Linked DNA regions of Homo sapiens: region 2 is linked to region 1. Evidence: fine-mapped expression QTL. Tissue or cell type: tibial artery. Region 1 holds a variant in brackets; the other region holds the start of a gene. All regions are shown on one strand. Distances are between the middles of the regions.

The links. PIP is the estimated chance that this variant, and not a neighbour inherited with it, causes the effect.
Region 2: GOLIM4 starts here. The variant in region 1 is fine-mapped to the expression of GOLIM4 in tibial artery (GTEx, PIP 0.91).

The regions. Positions count from the first base shown.
Region 1 is chr3:167,969,873-167,980,744 of GRCh38, reverse strand. No RefSeq gene overlaps it. Among named protein-coding and RNA genes, the nearest start is that of GOLIM4, 120 kb to the left of the region's middle. The variant T/C (reference allele first, on the strand shown) is at 4,460.
Region 2 is chr3:168,090,760-168,101,631 of GRCh38, reverse strand. GOLIM4 (golgi integral membrane protein 4) reads left to right here and starts at 5,708. Exons shown (of 16, transcript NM_014498.5): 1 at 5,708-6,533. The coding sequence starts at 6,347. RefSeq lists enhancers at 4,933-4,982, 5,180-5,681 and silencers at 5,353-5,592, 5,883-5,932.

The DNA of each region.
Region 1 (10,872 bases):
TAAGTGCCTATTCATAGCTTTGATGTAAGGATTAAATTGAATAAGCCCTTAAAAAACTGTTAATCCATGGAAGTGTTTAGGGCAGCGACTGACACACAGTTACTGCTCCCTAGACACTTGTTAGTAGAACCATCATCATGAATGGAACAGGATCTACGGGTTCGAATCCTCCTTCCATCACATCTTATCTATGTGTCCTTGGCAAACTTTTCTGTGCCTCAGTTTCTTCATCTACAAAATGCAATTAAAAAATACCAGCTTAATAGGGTTATTGTGACAAACAAAGAAAGAACCTAGGAAATGTTTGATATATACTGTGCACTCTTTAAGTCAGCTAGCTGTTTTTCATTATATGAGAACCGCCAAAAGATTGGTTCGTGGTTGTTATTTTGTTTATTTATTTATTTTGAGATGGAGTCTCACTCTGTCGCCCAGGCTGGAGTGCAATAACACAGTCTCGGCTCACTGCAACCTCTGCCTCCTGGGTTCAAGCGATTCTCCTGCCCCAGCCTCCTGAGTAGCTGGGATTACAGGCACCCGCCATCACGCCTGTCTAACTTTTGCATTTTTAGTAGAGACGGGGTTTCACCATGTTGGCCAGGCTGATCTCAAACTCCTGACCTCGTGATCTGCCCACCTTGGTCTCCCAAAGTGCTGGTATTACAGGCGTGAGCCAGCACACCCGGCCCATGGTTGTTATTTTACATGCAAGGGATATAATTTTACGGAATCTACACAAAACTATAGAATGACATGTTTAGAATGTTTTAATGTAAACATGGAGATGAACAAAGGAAAAAAGTCAACACGCAAAAATCTAAGTGAGGAATGATGAAAATTCCAACTATTGACTGTGTTTAGAGAGATGGCATTTTTTGAAAACATTATATAGATATATTTCAAATTCTAGTCAACAGTTATTGCTTATTCTGGAGAACTAAGATTGCTTCTCTTTGACCTAAAGCCCTTCTATCATTAAAGCTGAAGCAATCTTAGCTTTAGGAAGAATATAGAAAATCCAAAGAACAAAAAAGTAATTGCTTTTTAGAGTATAGAGTAATTTTTAAATATAATGATATATTTTTATATAAGATTTAAGGAAAAAGGTAGATTTTTAAAAATTAAATGTATTTTTTAAGATTAAAAATGCATGTACAAGTATTTATAGTATTCACATGGTTCAAAATTCAAGAAGTATAAAAGAATATCTGGTGAAAATTCTCCTTTCCTCTTCTGAACTTTATTCACCTACTTTTCTGCACAGACAACCAATGTTATTGGAGAATCAGGAGAATATTCTGTTGTATGAATTCACTACAATTTTTATTTAACTAATCTCGTATTGATGGACATTTGATTTATCCAGTCTTTCACTATTACAAACAGTCTCACAATGAATAACCTCATAAAAAGGCCATTTTGTGAGAACATGATTTTATTTGTAGTATAAGTTCCTAAAGTTGGGCTTGCTGTTTAAGGCCATGTGTATTTAAAATTTGTTAAATATTGCCAAATTACCCTTCATAGAGGTGGCAATAATTTACACTCCCAACTGGAAATATATCAGAATTCTTCAAACTAGACTTTTTAGCATCTGTTAAAATTCTGGAAAGGGGAGGGGTGAGGACAATGGAATTATCACTAGCACTCAAACAGAATATCAGGTCTGGCGCTCACTCCTGACCATTTTCTGCCGAGATGACAAGTCTCCAGAGAGTCCCCAGTTTGACATGGCTCTGCATTCCACATGGCATGGTAGCAGGGGCAGTGAGAGGTTTCTGGGATATGGATTTGAGGGTGGCTTTGAAGGGTGGAAGAAGCACCTGAGAATTTCTGGGCCTACAAAAGGCTTGGAAATGCTGAGAGGGGCAGTGAAAGAGAAGAAAACTGGGTTTAGGACCAGGAGGTCACAGAGGGCAGAGACCTTGCAATCAGCAGGGGTAGCCAAATCTGATATTATCAGTAGCAAATTATACCCCCAATACCAGATGTGACCTTATAGATAGCTGTGTAGAATGTCTTTTCCTGAGCCAAGCAAGGGAGAGAGAGAGAGAGGTTGTAGCGGGATGAGACACCCTGGCCAAAGACCAACTAGGGCTGACATTCATCTCTTTTCTAATGTCAGAATAGTATATAAACTTGTATCATACCTGGGGGTAGAACAAGGACCCTGTGCTCTCTTGTTTCACCATCTCCTCTTGGATATGTTTTTTTTCCCCCCAATTTGTCCAATGCCTTTACCTTGGATCTCTTATTTTTCTGTTGCCTTAGGTAATTTACTCCTAGTTGCAAACCATAAAATCTTATGTAAGCATAATGTAAACATAAAGAGACTCATAAAACATGGGGAAACTCACAGGAACTTCAGGGAACTAGGCCGAGATATAAAACCAGCAGCAATGCAGCCAGCAGAGAAGTCCAGTGGAAACCACAGTCACCGTGGCTTATCAGTAGATTCCTGATGCTAGGCAGGGGAGGCTAGAAACTGCCACAGCTATTCCAGAAGAACCAGGGGCCTCTGCCACCACACCTGCCCATCTGGAAATACTTGTCCTTGTGACTGCCAGCTGCCTTTGTTGCTCACTTTCACATTCAACTCACACAAGACTTGATGGGACCAGGCCACATGTAGAGCTCTACTTGGAAACGTGCCTGGAAAATGGCTTTGTTAGGTTTTTCATCTACGGTACAAGAGGACTAACATAATACGTGTCAGAATGAATGTTGCATGAAGCAAATGAGGGTATCTATTTCACTCCATGTTTCAACTGTGTCCTTTACATTGAAGAGTGCCACATATATATGTGCTGAGCCTCCGATCTGTATTTTCAACTTCCTGCTAGACAGAGAAAACGACTTGCTCATAGTGTGGAAGCAACATCTCTTTTAAAATAACATTTTTTTTAAGGGATTCTTTCTCCTAAACGAACCTTGTCCTTTATATTTAGCATCCTTGGCTGAGGTCCCTAGATACATGTTCTCGCCACCCTGTCTTCTGAGTTGTTATCTTGAACAGGTCCCCCAGGTGTGCAATCTTCCTACTGAGTACCAGTGGCATGATTATTGTGCTTCAGCTGCAAATTAGTGAAAGAATAAACAATTTTTAAAGGAAATTTTGATTCCGAACCAGCATGTTAAACACAAGATGATTGACTGTGCAATGCTCTCCTTCCCACTAAACACAGATGTATTTCTTGCCGTGTTTTTTCCGTGTAGGTGGATTTACAACTTGGAAATCTCTTGATAACACACACAGCAGCGACTGTCACCTGATAGATCACTTTTCTAGAATACCGTGTTCACAGTCTTGTTCTATAAATCGTTTCTTGGTTTACCATGTAACTTTGCTTCTTATTCCGTTTCATCACTCTTTTCATTCATAAGTGTACAAACATTCCTTCTATCCGTCGTTTACTGTTCTGCTGTCTTATCTGGTACAAACAAGATTATCTGCCTCACCCTAATTTTAATGGTGAACTTTAGATAGTAGAATTACTCATTTATATGTATCTGAGCCTCAGATCTGTGTTTTCAGCTTCCTGCTTCTGAACTTCATTCAGTGGTTCAGTTGCTCCAAAGTAATTTTTACAAACACATTTTTATGCACAAAAGGGAGAAAGTGAACACATGCTGCAGTAAAAGGAATCTTGAATAATTGGTGAGTAAATGTGAGCTTTGCTCTCGTCCCGAGGGCTAGACTGTACATTTCCGGAGTCAGTGTGCTGAAAAACATGATTAAGAGAACCAACAGGCAGGGTTTTCATCTGAGCATATATGGAAATGCTTTTAGATGCAAGAAATTTAGCAGCTTGCTTTAGCGAATGCTATGAGTATCTTTGTCTCTTAAGAGACTGTAGTCTTTCAAAACACCAAATAAGGCTAAATCAGAGGTTTAGGGGACACAAAGTAAAGGCTAGTAGTGGTGATTATAAAAGGTTGACTTTTCCCTCTTTATATTTCACCTTATGTCCTTTAAAGAAAACAGTTTGTATCTTTTCTTATTGCCTGTAGTTTTTGAAAGCTTATTTAAACAACTCCATTGGCATGTTGCCTGTATGAGATCTTCAAGTGAAATAATACTTTATGAAACGCAGACACACTCCCTTTTAAAAGTTTTGTTGGCTAAAACGTGCTTCTGTTTTGCCTATTTAGTAAACTCTGTGAGAAATTATTTAAGGTTTTGGGGCATTAGGAATGGGGCATTATTTCATTTTCATGAAACAAGTCTTTTAAAATAATAGACCATGAGTAATTTCCACTTATTTTTTTTTAAGTTCTCTAGAAAATGCCCCTTTCTCCTTATGCATAAAAATTTGTTGTTTAAAGCTACAAGGGTGAATGATTTTATTTTCGCTCGGAATTGCTTCTTTAAAAACCAGATATTGATTATTTTGTTTGACATAAAGTCATTTTTAAAAAATTTGTTCCTTCTTTTTCTTGAAGATGAGCATTTTAAATG[T/C]ATGCTCCTGCACTTTCTGATAAATTGCTGCCTGCTTAAATTCTCCACATCATTTCAGATTTTTTTTCGTGTTTGGCAATAATGAGATAGGAAAGGAGTTTGAAGAAGTGAATACGAAAAAGACTTCTCTTGTGTCGAATTTTAATATTTTTTTTCCTAAGAGTTTTGAGTAAAGCCATTTTGCACAAAACACTACTACTGAGAATAAAGAAGTTGTAGAAGAGATTTTTAGTTAAAGAAGGCTTTTCACTTAACGAAACAATGGCAACCTGTATCCATCTTGTATTTATTGAGGAATAATAGAAAACATTATTTCTCTCTAACACAAAAGAGCACTTTAAATTGACTGTTTGATAAAACAGTTATGCATTTAATTATAAATGTTTGCTTCATACACTGCATAATTATATATTTCCAAAGTTATTAACTCTCAGCCCCACTTAGAGGGGAGAAACAGAGATTTAGGGTGCATCTCCTGCACCTACCCATAACCTTCTCCTCTCCAACCCATACTTTGTAAGTGCTCTTCGCTAGCTTATGGGTTCACGTATGGTCACATATCTAATTTTTAAAAATGCAATCATTTGTACTCTTCAAATAATAGATTTCTAAAAGGTTTGTTATCCCTTTCTGTTCCCTAAATCTATCAAGACCTGGCTCACTCAATTCAAGAAAGCGAATCTTTCTTTCAAATGCCTCAAGGAAAAGCAATGGTAGGAACAGATCAATCCATTAAATAGTTGGCCCCAATTTGAGGATACCGTTACTTCTGGTGTTGTCACACTATGTCACTGTTAAAACTAGTTATCTGCAACATAATACATCCTTGTCCACTCCTACAACAATGCTTGTGTTAATCAGACCCATGCCTAGAGAGAGTTGTACCATTTTGGGCTTCCAAGATTAAAATTATTTTATTTTTACTTTGAAGTAAAAGTTGTTGGTATCCTATATACCCTTTACGAGGCTGGTGTGCCTACCCCACAGCTGGTGTGTACTGACTGCTAAGAGCTCATAGTCTTAGTCTTCTTTAAGTACTGACTTTGGGGAAACAAGAGCTTCTTGTTTGGGAAGTTACACTTGAACCTTCTTGCACCTTTTTTTTTTTTTTTTTTTTTTGAGATAGAGTCTCACTGTCTCCCAGGCTGGAGTGCAGTGGCACGATCTCTGCTCACTACAAGCTCTGCCTCCCGGGTTCATGCCATTCTCCTGCCTCAGCCTCCCAAGTAGCTGGGACTACAGGCACCCGCCACCACGCTTGGCTAATTTTTTTTTTGTATTTTTTTAGTAGAGACGGGGTTTCACTGTGTTAGCCAGGATGGTCTCGATCTCCTGACCTCGTGATCCACCTGCCTCGGCCTCTCAAAGTGCTGGGATTACAGGCATGAGCCACCGTGCCCGGCCCTAACACTTGCACCTTTCAACCTGGGAAAAACCCACAGTGTATCACTGGCTGATATTAGAATGAGGAAGACCAGCCCCCTTGCCTCAAGATGGGCCAATTCTGCGGCTGACACAAAGCCTAGAACATAGCAGAGATTCAATAAATACGTATTGAATGATTGAATAAATAGGTAGACACTTGAATATACATTATGGTACATACAAAGCAAATATTTTCTGAGAATATATTAATATTTTCTTTTTTGGTTTCTAAGTTGTAAATCATGGTAAAAAAGATTTTCCCACTTAAAACTAATAAAGGATTTTGCTCATGGCTTCTTCAACTACTTTTTAAGATTTTTTTCTTATGATCAATACACACTTGAGTTTTTCACTATTGTGGCTAACACAGGTCATTGCACCACCTTAGTTTTATATTTATTTAGGCTGTTGTGTCCTCCAAATTTGGAGCCAGCTTGTGCGCAACTTAAATTGACAGCTTTTTTTTTTTTTTTGGTCCTGGAGTTGGAATGGGAGCAGTAGTGGCTGGCAGCAGATATGGTTCCTCATATCAAAATTCCTCCAGAAAAGAATAGAATTTAGGTGAAGATCAATTTGAGCCTAAAGTGATCCCAAATTTTAAGAAGGGGAGGGAGGCCAAAGTAGGAACTTTTTAGGTAGAGGGAATAGCATTATATTGGCTCTGAGTTGGGGAGGAGCTACAAATAGTTGAGAAGCCAAAAAAAAGGCCACAGCTCTTAGTGGAGATGATAAGAAGCTTGAGATGAAACTTGTAAAACAAGCAGGGGTCAAATTATACAAAACCAAAGTCTGGAGCTTACATGAGCCTATTTGAATCTTGTAAAGATCATTCTAGCTGTTTTGCAAAGAATGCACTAGAGTAAGAAGAGATTAATGGCCTGAACCAGGGAAGCTGCAGTGGGAGCAGAGGATGAGTGGAAGAGATAAATTGCTAAGACTTGACAACCAATTGGTTGCTGTGGACAAGGAAGAAGGAGTAGTAAAAGGTAACAGATTTGGACTATGAAATGGCCATAAAAACAAAGGCAGGAGAAAAAGCAGTATAAAAGGAAAGCTAGTAAGTACATTTTTGGGCACATGATGTTTGTGGGGCCTGTAAAATATCCGGGCAATTTGAAATGTGTTGCTACAATTCAGAAGGAGAAGACAGAAATTTGGGAGCCACCTGATAGATATTATCCCATGCTAGCAATGAGGTGGAATGAGTTCCACCAAAGAGAGAGAGTGTAGAGGAAAGAGAGAGAAGTCTTCAAACATATTCTTTGGAATCTTTTGTAAGCAATTGTAGATTGGGGTTTCTGTGCCATGTCTTATGTGAGTAAGTGATAATGTCTGAATACTTACTTTCCAGCTTTCTAATTTAAGCAGAAGAATGAAATAATTGTTTTAGGGTGCTTGCAATTTGGAACACTATTAGAAATTAAATAGTATGTTTATGAGATGTGAATCTTTTGAGAAATGCAGAAAGTAGGTCAGATAAAATAAATGTTGCTACAAATAAGCACATCCAATAGGCAATTCCAAAGCATCCTGATTTTGTATAGCAAGCCATCAACCTTCTAATACTTTTGGCAAGAGGAGAGGAGGTTATGGCCAAATGAAAATTGTAAAGAACAGATGGCTGTCCTCAGGTGACAAATGTTTAACATGAGGCATGCAGACATTTCTCAGTAGGTTGCAAAGACCTTAATGACTGAAAATTTATTTTCGCTTTCTCTGCTTTAATGAAAGGGAGTACAAACTTCCCAGCCTTCTCAGGCAGTTTATTGTTGTACCTATGCCGTTGAAGACAAAACATTGACCTGTGCTATCTTGACAAGGTGGAAGACAGCTGCAAGGCAGAGTTACCAAACTTTCTCTGTTCAGGTGGCCCTTGGTGTATATTATTCCACAGCATCCCAGGCCAAAAGAAATATCTGACACTTCAGTACAGTAAATAGTTAGGTCCAAACAACTTAATAAGTATTTATGTCCTAGCAAATTATTAATAGTAGCGGCTTAAAATAATCCACATAAATTTAGAGAGAAAATATTTTATGTCATTTTTGAATAATCACAATTACTTCCTAATGAGAAGAGTGCACTCATTAGGCACTGCACAGCTTCTCAAACCTCGGAGTCAGTTTGGACACCACTACCCTCACTTCCTGTTCCACATTACTTTTTGTGCAGTCCTTGCTTTTTATTACATAATCTGTGAAAAACCCAGCTTCTAAAAGATATGATGGCATGCAGGGGAATGGTATACAATCTGCGAATTACCTTCAGCTTGTAATTAATTCATGGAACATCTGACAGGTGCTAAAGACCACTGTGTTTCCCTTAAAAATATAAAGCATCTCACAGTACTCTATGGATTTTCTGCATCACCTTGAGGTGCTTTGGCACATAGTTGGAAAACTGTAGCTTTACAGCATTTGAAGGTAATCAGAAATCAGAATGGGATCAGGGAACAGACGGACATTTAGGAGATAATCTCTTTGACTAACCATTTGAATTCCTCACTATAAAAACCTAAGTTTTTTGAGGTCTTAAGAGGCCTTATCATTTGTTCCCCGTTATGCATCAACATTCGTTTGCATGATGTCCTTTCTAAATAATGGAATTAGTTTTCAGGATAAAGCTATAACCTTTTTTCCCAAGATACCATCAGATTTCTTGAGTTAAAAAAAAAAAAAGGTTAGGATATGTTCCTACTTCAGTGGGCAGAATCTCAAAATAATGTAGGTCTGGCAGGGTGTGATTTGTTTTCCTCTTGGAGTACATTGAACTGTTTCTTTGACACTTTGTTAAAGGACACAGTGTCGGAGCTATTATCTATTAGAGGGGACAGGAAATGACTCTGCATATAATCACTAGCAAGCCTAGGTATTTTATTAGACACAAATGAAATATTAGATTCCTACATCACCTTAATTGTGTTCCAAATTGATCTCAAAATTAAATCCTTGTTTCCTCTCTCTTACTGCTTAACTTGCATTTATTTTTTTTACCGCTATGACAACATATTCATTGTAAGTTACAATTTATCAGCTGTCTATAACGTAACTGTTGAGTAGAACAAGATTACCTTCAGCTCCTAGGACAATTATGAAGAAAACTTATCTCTCTTTTCCCGTTTTTCACAGAATCAACCTGATTCTAGAATATGTCATTTGTGAAAGGAAGAAGAAGAAAAGAAAATTACTGTACTTTTTTTTCTAGTGCTTATTGTGTTCTATGCAGTTTACCTGCCTTCATGAATTTGGAGCTCACAAAAACTCTTGTCCAGTAGATTTTTGTTTTTTTCTGATGTGTAAAACATTCCTTGGAATCAGTAATTGTTAGGGTAAGAATTCAAATCCTGCCATCCATGTTCTTTTTACTATATACTATCTCCTCTCTCTAGGACATTAGGACAATGCAACCAGACAAAGCAAAGTCCACATCTTATCTGTGTCCCTCCATTTCAGTATCATGAAAACAGGATCAAGCCAAGTTAGAGTTAGCATTAGAGCCATCGATGGGGAATGTCCCACCAGCTAATGTGCAGAGAAATCGTTCATGGTGTGTTTCCTTAGATTCCTGAGTTGAGATCATGAGGCTTACAAACCCTTAAAAACTTTACCAAGAAGTCCAAAGAAATATGGTCCCAAGAAACTTTGGTACTGGGAGAGACCTCAGAGATTAGTTAGTTTAATTCCATATTATAGATAAGGAAAGAAGGACCAGAGTAGTTTAGTCACCATATCAAATTACTGAGGAGCTGCTTTAGAACCCAGTCACCTGACACCAAATCTAGAGTTGCTTCTATTATGTCACAAAGCCTTTTTTCTATCATGTGCTTTTTTCTTCATTAAACAATGCAACAACATGTATTCATTACAGAAACTTCTCTGAAGACTTCTGCTAAATGTCTTTCTATCCACATATATTCATATACATGTTTTCTTTTTAATTTTTATGGGTACATAGTGTACATATTTATGGGGTACATGAAATAATTTAATACAGACATACCATGTGTAATAATTACATCAGAGTAAATGGGGTATCCATCACCTCAAGCATTTATCATTTGTATTACAAACATTTCCATTCTATTTTTTAAATTATTTTAAAATGTACAATAAATTATTGTTTGCTCAACCTGTTGTGCACTCAAATACTCGTTCTTCTTTATTCTATTTAACTATATTTTTGTACCCCTTAACGATCCCCGTTTCCTGCCCGCGCATCCTTCCTAGCCTCTGGTAACCATCGTTCTACTTTATCTCCATGAGTTCAATGTTTTAAATTTTAGTTCCCACAGTAAGTGAGAACACAAAAAGCATGTGTTTCTGGGTCTGGGTTATTTTATTTAATATAATATCCTCCAGTTTCATCCATGTTATTGCAAATGACTGCGTCTCATTCTTTTAATGGCAGAATAATACTACCTTGGGAATATGTATGTGTACCACATTTTCTTTATCCATTCATCTGTTGATGAATACTTAGGTTGCTTTCAAATCTTGGCTATTGTGAGTAGTGCTGCAATAAACACAGGAGTGTAGATATCTCTTTGATATATTAATGTCCTTTATTTTGGGTATATACCCAGCAGTGGGATTGCCAGATCATATGGTAGTTCTATTTTTAGTTTTTTGAGAGACCTCCATACTATTGTCTATAGTGGCTGTACTAATTTACATTTCACCAACAGTGTGCAAGAAGCCTCTTTTCTCCACATCCTCATCAGCATTTAATATTGCCTGTCTTTTGAATAAAACCAGTTTTAACTGTGGTGAGGTGCTATCTCATTGTAGTTTTCATTTGCATTTTTCCAGTGATCAGTGATGTTGAGCATGTTTTCATGTATCTGTTTGCCATTTGTAGGTCTTCTTTTGAGAAGTGTCTATTCAGATTTTTGCCCATTCATAGATTATTAGATTTTTTCCTATAGAGTTGTTTGAGCTCCTTGTATATTCTGGTTATTAATTCCTTGCTAGATGGATAGTTTGAAAATA
Region 2 (10,872 bases), 120 kb before region 1:
CATTTTAAATTGGGTAGCTGAAGCTTAATTTTAAAAAGTAAATGGTAGTTTTTCTGAAAAGTATGAAACTTTCTGAAGGTAAGCAAATGGTCCAATCCATTTTAGGTGGACAATGACAAGTACCACTACGGCACTGAGTTTTACGTAAAGTGAGAAGTTTCGCTTCTCAAGTGTTGTGGATTAATTTCTTAGGCAATTTTCTCTGAGCATTGCAGGAGAGCTATGGTTATCCTTTCCATTTTACAGATGAAAGAATTAATGGTCCTAACAGTTACTTACTCTTGACCTTCAAGATCATTTGTAACTTCAATGGAATTTGTGCCTTGATGCTACACATCTTGAGTCATCTTCTAAATTCTTCTAAGGCTCGTTAGAATTGTGCAGGAGAATCAGGGACAAACTAGCAAAAAGTCAAGCCACAGTTGTCACTTATCTACTCTGCAGGCAGTCTAGAATTATGCCATTGGAGTTCAGTCTTTTCATTTAATAGTTTCTCTCAAAATTGTTGGGTAGAAGACTAAGTTAGTAATTCAGTTTTAATATCTTCCTGTTAGTTAACATACCCAGTTTTCTTTCCTCTGATTAAGCAGCTAAAGGAAAGGAAGAGTCATTTTAGATTAGGCTACTTTGTCTTGAAGAAGGCAAGTCCAAGTTTGTGTATATGAGTGGGTGAGGTTGGGAGAGAAAGGCATAGTCATAGTCTAGGATTCTGGAAAACCAAGGGGGATAACTAAAATTTTGGATGCCAGGAGCTGAAGAGTTGAACTAGAGAGCAGAGTGATCCAAGACAAATGTTTCCATTTCACAATTTTAATTTGGGCAGAATTTAATGCTGTGATAACTCAATTCTTCTTATATTTTGTTTGAAAATTTGTTCCACTTTATTTCTAACTAAAATTATTGGTAGTCATTTTGTTCTGACTCAAAATATTCCTGAAAACTATAGTTTAAATAGCATTTATGAAGCAGATTATTATTTCCCTTAGGAATAATTCTAAAATTAAACGTTGAATTTCTGACCCAGAACTTGGCATTGGATACTTTATAAATATGACCAGCCACCCTCATCACAATTAAAAAATTACTATATGTTATAACATATTAAAATTGTAATGCCAATTTTATAAAATGGTCATGAGTAAACTAAGTATAGCTTTCATAAAAATCAATCCAATAAATTATAATATTTTGGGGGAGGGGACATTAAAAAATGTCATGTTTTACTGGCCACTGATCTTTTCTGTGGTATCTCTGCTTATCTAAAGTCTTTGACTATTAAAGGCAGTGAGTTGGTGAGAAGCTGGATGAGCCATTGGAAGATTTAGGAAGTTCACTTCTGAGGCTCACATATGCTCCCTTTCCATTCTTTCTAACTTCCTATGAAATTAAACTGAAAAAAAAATGTGGTAGTTAGCTCATTATATGCTAGCTGTAACAAACATTAAGCAACATATTCATAATGATTTCGTATACTGCCTTAGAATTTGGAAAAGTTTAGGGTTGGCTAGATATCCTGCTTTAGAATGTTGTTAGAGGTTTGAAATGATAGTTCCTCTTCCTTTAGACTAGCTACACATCCTGTGGCAAATAGGGACTTCTAAATCACGTCCATTATTAGTAGTCTGTATTCAAAAGGTATTTATTTATTTTTATTTTATTTTATTTATTTTTTTTTTGAGATGGAGTCTCGCTCTGTTGCCAGGCTGGAGTGCAATGGCGCAATCTCAGCTCACTGCAACCTCCGCCTCCCAGGTTCAAGCGATTCTCCTGCCTCAGCCTCCCGAGCAGCTGGGACTACAGGCACACGCCACCATGCCCAGCTAATTTTTGTATTTTTAGTAGAGACAGGGTTTCACCATGTTGGCCAGGATGGTCTCGATCTCATGACCTCGTGATCCGCCTGCCTCAGCCTCCCAAAGTGCTGGGATTACAGGCGTGAGCCACCGCACCCGGCCTCAGAAGGTATTTCTTAGTGATATTGATGGTAAGGTTTCTCTCATTGAAAAGCATTTTTATAAATAAGAACAAATCATCTACTTTCTCCTCTGCCCTCCTCTTCAGATATAGTTGAAAATTACAAAGGTGGCAACGTAGTGACAGATGTAAACAAGGCATAAAGATACATTGAGTGGGGTTCAGTTACTCAGTTATGCATTCAACCACAGACCTACTTTTTAGTTTGTTAATCTTCTAACAATTACTACTAGGTCATTATCAAAATCCTATGAAAAAGGAGTCTCAAAACATCTTTCACAAAATGTTCAAAAAGACATAATACCTTGAATGCAGCTTTCTTTACCTCTCAAAACAGGTCAGGTAAAAGTGGCAATCAGCAAGGCAAGTGTATTCATTAGGGGACAGCAAACTGATGAAATGGCAAAAAGGTGAAGACATCATAGAGTGAAGATTGTTTTATAGGATAAATAACTTTTGTAATTGTCAGATGAAAAGATTAAAATTAGTTTATTAATACTGAAAAGCTATTTTAAATTTTATTTACTATTCATCACCTTTTCTTAGGTGATGATTTCTCCTACAAATTACAAAATATTGAGTTCCATTTGTAGTAAAGAAATTTAAATAAAAGATTTAGATAATAGAAATTATTTACTCTAGGATCCTAAATATTATTAATTTAAAATCTTACTTTTAGAAATTATACGTCAGCTGTCTCTCTCAACTTTTTATTTTTTCCTTCCCTTATTTTGAAAATGAACAAATTTGATTAAAATGACAAATTCACTTAAGTTAGAGAGAATTAATATTCCCAAATGTTATATTTGCCCTTCTCAAATGTAAGACCTTGAGTATCTTTAAGTTAATTTCTTCCTGCCTCAGAAATAAAATACTAAATCAGTAAAATTCTTCAGGGTTTATAATTTAAAGTTAAATATATTGTTAAATATATGGAATATAGAAATATAATTATATATACTATTTTTAAAATAACAAAGAAGCAAAAATAAAATAGAATGAACAACACACCTTCCAAGACCAGTATAAACAGCTGTTATGTTATAATTGCTACCCAAAGGCAATGTTATGTAAATTCATTTTATAGGCCTTGGATAGCTTCCTCATGTTGGCCGCTCAAAAGCTCTATACTGACATTTTCAGGAAACTAGCAGCATACTTTACCTTGGAAATGTAATATTATAAAAATACCACCATTAGTAATTTTATGTACTTCTACATACCCTTCTTGAATTTGAAATAATGGATAAGTTCAGGTAATAATTTTTGCTGTCTTTCAAATTTTATGACTAAAATATTGAGTTGTGTTTTATGGCCTGCATTTATTATGTTCTGTAGAGTCAGCCAGCAGCTTTAGGCAAAGAATATCTTTGGAGTCTGGAATCAGATGCAAAGGAATCAGAGGTTTAAGATGAATCATACATTCAGGAAACATAAGAATTTTCCAAAGATTCTAAAATACATATTGTACAATATATGAGCAATAATTTTCCAACCCTCTATACAACTTCTTTTTCTTTTGTGGCTAGGATAATTTTCTCTTCAAATATGGGGCAAGATTATTGCCATAAACTTTATTTATTTATATATTTATTTATTTTGAGACAGAGTCTCACCTCTGTCGCCCAGGCTGGAGTGCAGTGGTGTGATCTTGGCTCACTGCAACCTCTACCTACCAGGCTCAAGGGATCCTCCCAACTCAGTTTCCCGAGTAGCTGGGACTATAGGTGCACGCCACCATGCCCAGCTAAATTTTTATATATTTTTTTTTTTGTAGAGGAGGGGTTTTGCTATGTTGCCCAGGCTGGTCTCATACTCCCAAACTTAAGCGATCTGTTCGCATTAACCTCCCAGAAGTGCTGGGATTACAGGAGTGAGCCACCATGCCCAGCCTAAATTTGGATAGTGTTTTTGGAGGAAGAGTTTGTTTAACAAAGTACTCTGACAACAGTAAGGAATGTTTAGTTATGAGGAATTTTAAAGAGATTCCAGTAATTATCCAATGTTAATTTCTGAGAGTCAAACTAAAAAAGAGGAATTTAAAGTGGTAGATTTAATAATAAGGAAGATTATGTAGTATTTACACAACAAAACTCCCAAACTCCTTTAGACTGTTTTCTTTTACAATCAGATTCTCATGTTAATGGAGATATAATTTCTTACTGTAACTTGTTTAATAGAATGAGAACATTGTTTCTATTGAAGAAAAAGACATAGAGCAGGGTTTGGATCTGGATTCTAATCTTGCTGAGTAACTAACTTTATGCAAGACCTAAAAGGTCCTAGAGCTGTCATAGTCACTTTGATAAACTTTGGCTTCTTTACCAACATGAAAGTCTAACACCCTGGCTGTGATCAGTGAGACAGTGTATCTGCACACGAAAGCATTTTGAATAATTTAACGCAAGTTATTATTTATTAAGGAAAAGCACATGCAAGACACACTTTATTTTTACAGTGGTATAAATGCCACAGGGTAGCATCGTTATAAATTCAGTTTATTTTAGGGCTTTAGCAACCTATAATTTCAGAGTCCACCTAAAAAAACTTTTGCACCAGGAACTGTCTTTCTGTTGCATTTAGCTAAAGAGATTTACCCCCATTTTGAGCACTCAGGCCCATTAGCAATGGTAACGACTAAAGTCCAGTTAGAATATAAAAATTATGCAGTGTATCATAAATTACACCACACTATACAGACAGATAAAATTTACTTTTCTTAGAATTCAGGTCAACAGCAGAAACAAAAATTATCATTTGTGCATAACCTTAATTATTCCCCTCAAGTACACAGAAAAAATAAATGCAGTATACATTTCTTCGAAGAGGTTTGTGGTTACTACCTTTCCTGTGCTGTACTAGTTTTTACATAGGGAACCTTTGTTGCCCTTTAAAATGTAATTTAGAAATGTAACTGATGTGTTTTGCCACCAATAAAACAAATACATATGACAAAATGAATGGATACTCATTTCAGTCTGTACGATTTGTTTTTAAATTATTCTATTTGCAGCTAGAGGAGAAATGTGAGACCATTTCTTTCCTCTCTGCCAATGGCAAGCCGATTTCCCCAGCCCACGTGGACAATTGAACATTAAGTCTAGCGTGCTTCCAGTCTCCCGACTCCTGCCGGGCCATCTGTGGGCACACACACATCTAGGCTAGTACACTGGATGGGGTAAGGCAGTCGACATGGCATCTCTGGTTTGACTACCGGGATTGTGCTATGTAGCTATCCCATGTGTCTGCCGCATCAGTTTATTGGACAGGGAAAGAAAGTGTACTCAGCAGAGTGCACACAGTTACTGCCATCCATTCTTTCGTTCATACACACATTTTACTCCGCTCTCCACGTGCGTTCCGAACGAGAACTGGAACACACACACACACACACACACACACACACACGTGTTCACCGAACCTCACCCAGACTCAGGCCCGGACAAGTCCCCCGCCCACCCAAAGCTCCCCGCCCTTCGCCCTTCCGCCTGCCTCTTCCCACCCTCTCCGACTCCACGTGGGCGCACCCCGGCGCCAGGCGGCCGCGCTGCCCACAGAGCCCCTAGCCGGCCCCGGCACTGGGAGGGAAGGTGCGGCCCTGGGGTCGGACGGACAAAGCCGGCATCCAATCGAGCCCGGCACTGCCTCCCCGAAGGGAGGGAGCGTCTGCTCGGACGGGCCCAATGAGCAAGGAGGCCGAGTGGGACTTCCTCCCGGAATCCCGTTGGCCAGAATAGCCGGGCCGTGGGTGACACGTAAGTTGGGCAGGAGGTGGCGGGGCGGCAGAGGCACCAGCCGACCCGTCAGTGACACCGCTGTGCCGTCCCCAAAACCAGCCGAGACAGCTGGCCCCCACCCTTCCACCCATTGGGCAGGCCGCACGGGGGCGCGGCCCGGAGTCCTGGTCCCTTTGTTGGGCGCGCACCCCCTCCCTTAGGTGGCAACAAAGTCGTGCAGTGGGAGCCGCCGCGATAGGGCGGGGAGTGGCCAGGGCGGGACTCCAAGAACTGCCCGGGGGCAGCGGGGCCAAAAAGTGGGAAGAAGGAAAAAAGGCAGGAGGCATCTGGGGACAGGCGCGAGGGCAGCCGGCTCTGAAGTATGCGGAGGGCCTCCTCCCGGCCCCGGGCATTCGCGGAGAACGAGCCTCGCAGAAGTTTGGCTGCAGCTGCCCGGGCGGCGTCGATGGCTGCGCGCCCCGCGCCGCGCGGGGGCTGAGCGGGCGCCACTTCCCCTCCGGGCCGGCTTTTGTGTCTGGCATCTCCTCCTCATGCTGCGTCTGGCCACCTACTGCGGCGGCCGCTGCTGAGACGCTCGCTCGGACCAAGGGGAGGAGACGGCGGGGGCGGCCGCGGCTTTGGGTCCAGGCGGGACTATGGGAAACGGGATGTGCTCCCGAAAGCAGAAGCGGATTTTCCAGACGCTGCTGCTGCTGACCGTCGTGTTCGGCTTTCTCTACGGCGCGATGCTCTACTACGAGCTGCAGACGCAGCTGCGGAAAGCCGAGGCGGTGGCGCTCAAGTACCAGCAGCACCAGGAGTCCCTCTCCGCCCAGTTACAAGGTACGGCTAACGGGACGCGCGCAGCCGGTGGCCAACTTTGCCCCGCGCCTCCACCCGGGCAGGAAAAGTGGCTTTGGTGAGCTATTGGCACTGTGGTTGCCACCTCTGACCTTCAGGGACGTCAGAGGTGAGCGTTTCAGGACTGCCGGCACCAGAGTGTCAGGGGAGATGACATTCTCATCCTCCCGCTTCTTCCTCCCAGCGGTTAGGTTTAGAACTTCGTAGCACCAGCCCATCGTCCCGCTGGGCGTTTGGTGGGCGGGTGCACAGATAGTCCTTTACCCGAGCTCTTGTCAAAGGCCCAGCTGCAATCGGGGCAGGGAAACTGGTAGCCCTCCGCCGCTTCTGCCAGCCCTGCTCTGAGGAGCATTGTTCCGTGGATTCTAGGTATTTGCTTTCTTGTTGACTTTGTCAGTTGCTTAAAAAATGAAGAGTTTGGCAGAGATTTCTCAAACTGTGCTGTTTTTCAAGGGAAAATTAAGCCATGACCCAGCAGCTTAATTAAAGTCATGGCCCAGTCGAATGGAAGGAACCTAGATCTGGACCTGCTAGTTTCTTATTTCTTATTCTTTTAATTTAATAGGATGTCTTTAGAGATGCTGGATGTGTGGGAAAAGTCCACACTACATACCATTCACCATCCTGCAGTAGTTTATTTCTTTAAAAACAGGTTTACTTGTCTTCCTAAGTAGCTTTTACTTCATCACAGAGATGCATGTATGTTACAGTTAGCTTCGGGAAGCCAAAGAGGAGAAACACAGGTTTTCACTTTGCCATGCACAGCAAACCCAACTTGAGCAAGACCTGTAGAAGAACTTAAAGTTTCTATCCTATTTTAGAATCTAATTTAATGTAATTTTCACAAACATAATTTACTTTAAATGTAAATTCAGAATTTGAATTTGAATTTACTTTTAACGTAAATTCAAAGTCAGCACCATGTCCTCTTGTTAAGGACGTATCCTATACATATTTTTTTTGCAAGCTTTTACTTGTGGTTAGTTTTCAATACTTATGCAGCTTTCTCCCCAACCAAAAAATAATAATAAATAGCTGTAAGTGGTGAAATGTTGGCAGACTTTGCTGATGATGCAAATATAGCTTGTTTAATATTGCTAGGTAGATAGATGCAAGCTAGAGGGATGTTTCTGTGTATGTGTGTGCAGATATGAAACAGATGCCTCTTCTTTGCTTCAGTTATTTTGAGTGTTTTCTAGTAAAAAATTTAAGATGAGAGAAAATGATACACATCCGATTGTTTGGACTTAACTTGCTCTTCCCAACTTAGAAGAAAGAAAAGTATTTTTAGCTTACTGACGCTGCATAGCCACAGGCAATGAAAATATATGGCTCGGCTTGGTTCAAAAGTAAAACCCGTTTTGATACGCTCTTAGGTTCACAAAATTTTCTTTAAACTCATTGAAATTTACCCATGAGTTATTGTTGGTATGAGAATATGGATATTTGTTTACTTATTTATTTACAAGGTATCAGTTGCTTCCCTGTGAAGTTCCATGGAGTCAGACCAAGGGAAAAATTTACCGTCTAATAGTATAACAGGACTAGATTTTCATAAACATGGCTGGAAGGGGCATGTATGGTGGATTATATGAGGTTGTGTGTGCCTTGGTCTCTTAGGAGTCCCATGAGGGCAAAGGCTGTCATTTTCACCATTACCTCCTCAGCACCACACTGTGCCTGACACTCATTAGGGGAATCAATGCATGTTTATTCAAACAACAAACAAAAATTATTCTGAACTGTGGCGAGTAAGTTCATCCCAGGCACTTTTGTCTTTCTGAGACTTTGCTTCTGTGTCTTTGCTTTTTGAAAGCCAAATAAAACAAGAAAATATTTTGTTCAAGTAGCTCCTTTGCCTCAACGGCCTATGATGGACGATGGATATTGTTGACTGAGGCCCTAATTTCTGAATAATGGCCTTTATTTGCAGTATTTCATTTTGAAATTTTAGAAATTTCTTTTCTAATTTGCCTTTTCTTTTTTTAGTGGTGGTGGTGGTAGTGGGGAAGAGAGGTGGTAAATGGTAATACAGGATCATTAAAATATACAACTTTTGTTTTGCAGCAGATGGAAATGTTCTACCTAATTTGAATAAGTGGCTTCAAAGTCCCTTTCTTAATTTATTCTTTTGTCATTTCCTCTCTAATTATGGTGCTACAAAACTTGCAGTATAATTGTGCATGAATAATTATTTCACAAGCAGGCTAAAGTATTTTTTTGTTTGTTTTTGTTTTTTGTGGATTCACTTTTGACTTCAGTAGCATTTATTTTGGATTTCCCATGTGTAAGCCATTTAATGTACATTTTCTGGTGGTATGCAACTTTTGCTTCCCTTTTCCAAGACAAATGACATTTTACTCAACAGCACTGTGTACCACCTGCATAGATGGGCTTTTAGGACATCAGGCTCTCCAGTCTTAATACTTGTTTAGTTAGGTGGGATTGCTTGACCTGGCTTGGATTAAGATCAGAATTAATGACTTTAAAAAGAGTGGTCTTTTTAAAAATGACTCTTGAAAAAATTTCAGTAGTTTAGACCTATAATCTGATGATGTGCGTTCGTTAAGTGAGCGTATTTAGGTCACCTTCAGTTTAAGAATAGATTATACTCCATAGATTCCTTTGAAAGTGGGTTACTTGTAACCCCAAGTTAACAAGTTTTATTGTAGAAGAGCCCCATAACTAGAAGATGGTGGGGATGGCATGCAGAAAGGTCAGAGACTAGGCAAACCCCTTCCACTATAAAAATATCTATGTCTGCCTGTTTATCTATCCCTCTTAGCAATCAGTCATCTATTTATCTCCCATACTGGCACCTTAATTATACTGAGGAGTGGGACAGAGGTCACATACTGGTGGCAAAGGTAATAACAATCTTTGGCCAGCACAGTGTTTATATAACCTTTAAAGTTTTTAAACTGCTTTCAAGTGAGCCATGCTCCATTGTCTGTATCTATAGGCAGTGTTTCTCAGTCTAGACTGCCCATTAGTATCACCTGGTGGCTCCCAGACCAATTAAATAACAGTCTATGGGGGGTGGAACCCAGGCTTCAAAAGTCTTTAAAGCTCCCCTGGTGATTCCTGTGTGCAGCCAAGGTTGAGAGCCACACCTCTATAAAAAATCTTAAAACTGAGCCTTTCCGTGCATTTACTTTACTTGTTTGGCCCCAGAGACACTTGAATTTTTTATCTGAGTATGTGATTAAAAGCAGACTGGTTTCTAGACTGTAATTCAGTTCTAGTTCTACAACCTTTTGTGTGAACCTTGACGTTTTTCTTATTTATAAAGTGGAGATTAGAATAACCTATTTTATAGAGGTATTGTGAGGATTAATGAAGATGATAGACTGTAGAGCTCTTAGCACATACTTGGCATATAGTAGGTACTGCTCGTTAAAAGTTAGCTGTTATCAGAATCCCTCTTTGAGGTAAGCTGCTTTATCCCTTTTACTCTTGCCAGGTTTGTCATGGGTAATTTCAAATTTTGAAATTGGCAGAATTTGTTTATGTAGCTAACCACCTCCTTTTATTGTACCTTAAATGAACATCAAGGAATATGCAAACATCCAGTGTACTTTAATCAGAAGAAAGGACCTTCCTTGACAATTTAAACTTGGACTGCGGTTACTGATTAACTCTGTTCTGGATCATATCAGATTAGGAGAGGGTGTGACTGCTAAGGTAATAATTATGTGCTGTGAGATCTGGGAGAGAGATATAACTATTTAAATTTTTATAAAAGGCATTTAGTGTAGAGGCAAAGAGCCTGACATTCCTAAAACACAGTATTGCAATGCTTTTGGACTTCCAGGGATAAGGAGAAACCATCCAGAAAAAGTTTATGTAAGGTTTATATGTTCCTATTCCAGATGAATATGTTACAACTATTTAAAATTTTAAAAAAAGGTCACAAATGTGACGTGTAGAAGTGCAGAGTTACAAGTGTGGATTTCTCACATGCATATATTGAGTTGTGGTGAAGTCTGGGCTTTCAGTGCACCCAAAGAATGGACATGTTTACCCCACAGGAAAATTTCCAACTCTCACCCCCTGCTAGCCTCCCACCTTTTGTAGTCTCCACTTCCACTCTCTATGTCCATGTGTGCCCGTTGTATAGCTCCCACTTGTAAATGAGAACATGCTATCTTCGACTTTTCTTTTTCTGAGTTATTTCCCTTAGGATAATGGCCTCCAGGTCCATCCATGTTGCTGCAAAAGACATGATTTCATTCCTTGTTACGGCTGAGTAGTATTCCATGGTGTATATATACCACATTTTCTTTACCAGTTCTCTGTTGATGGACGCTTAGGTTGATTC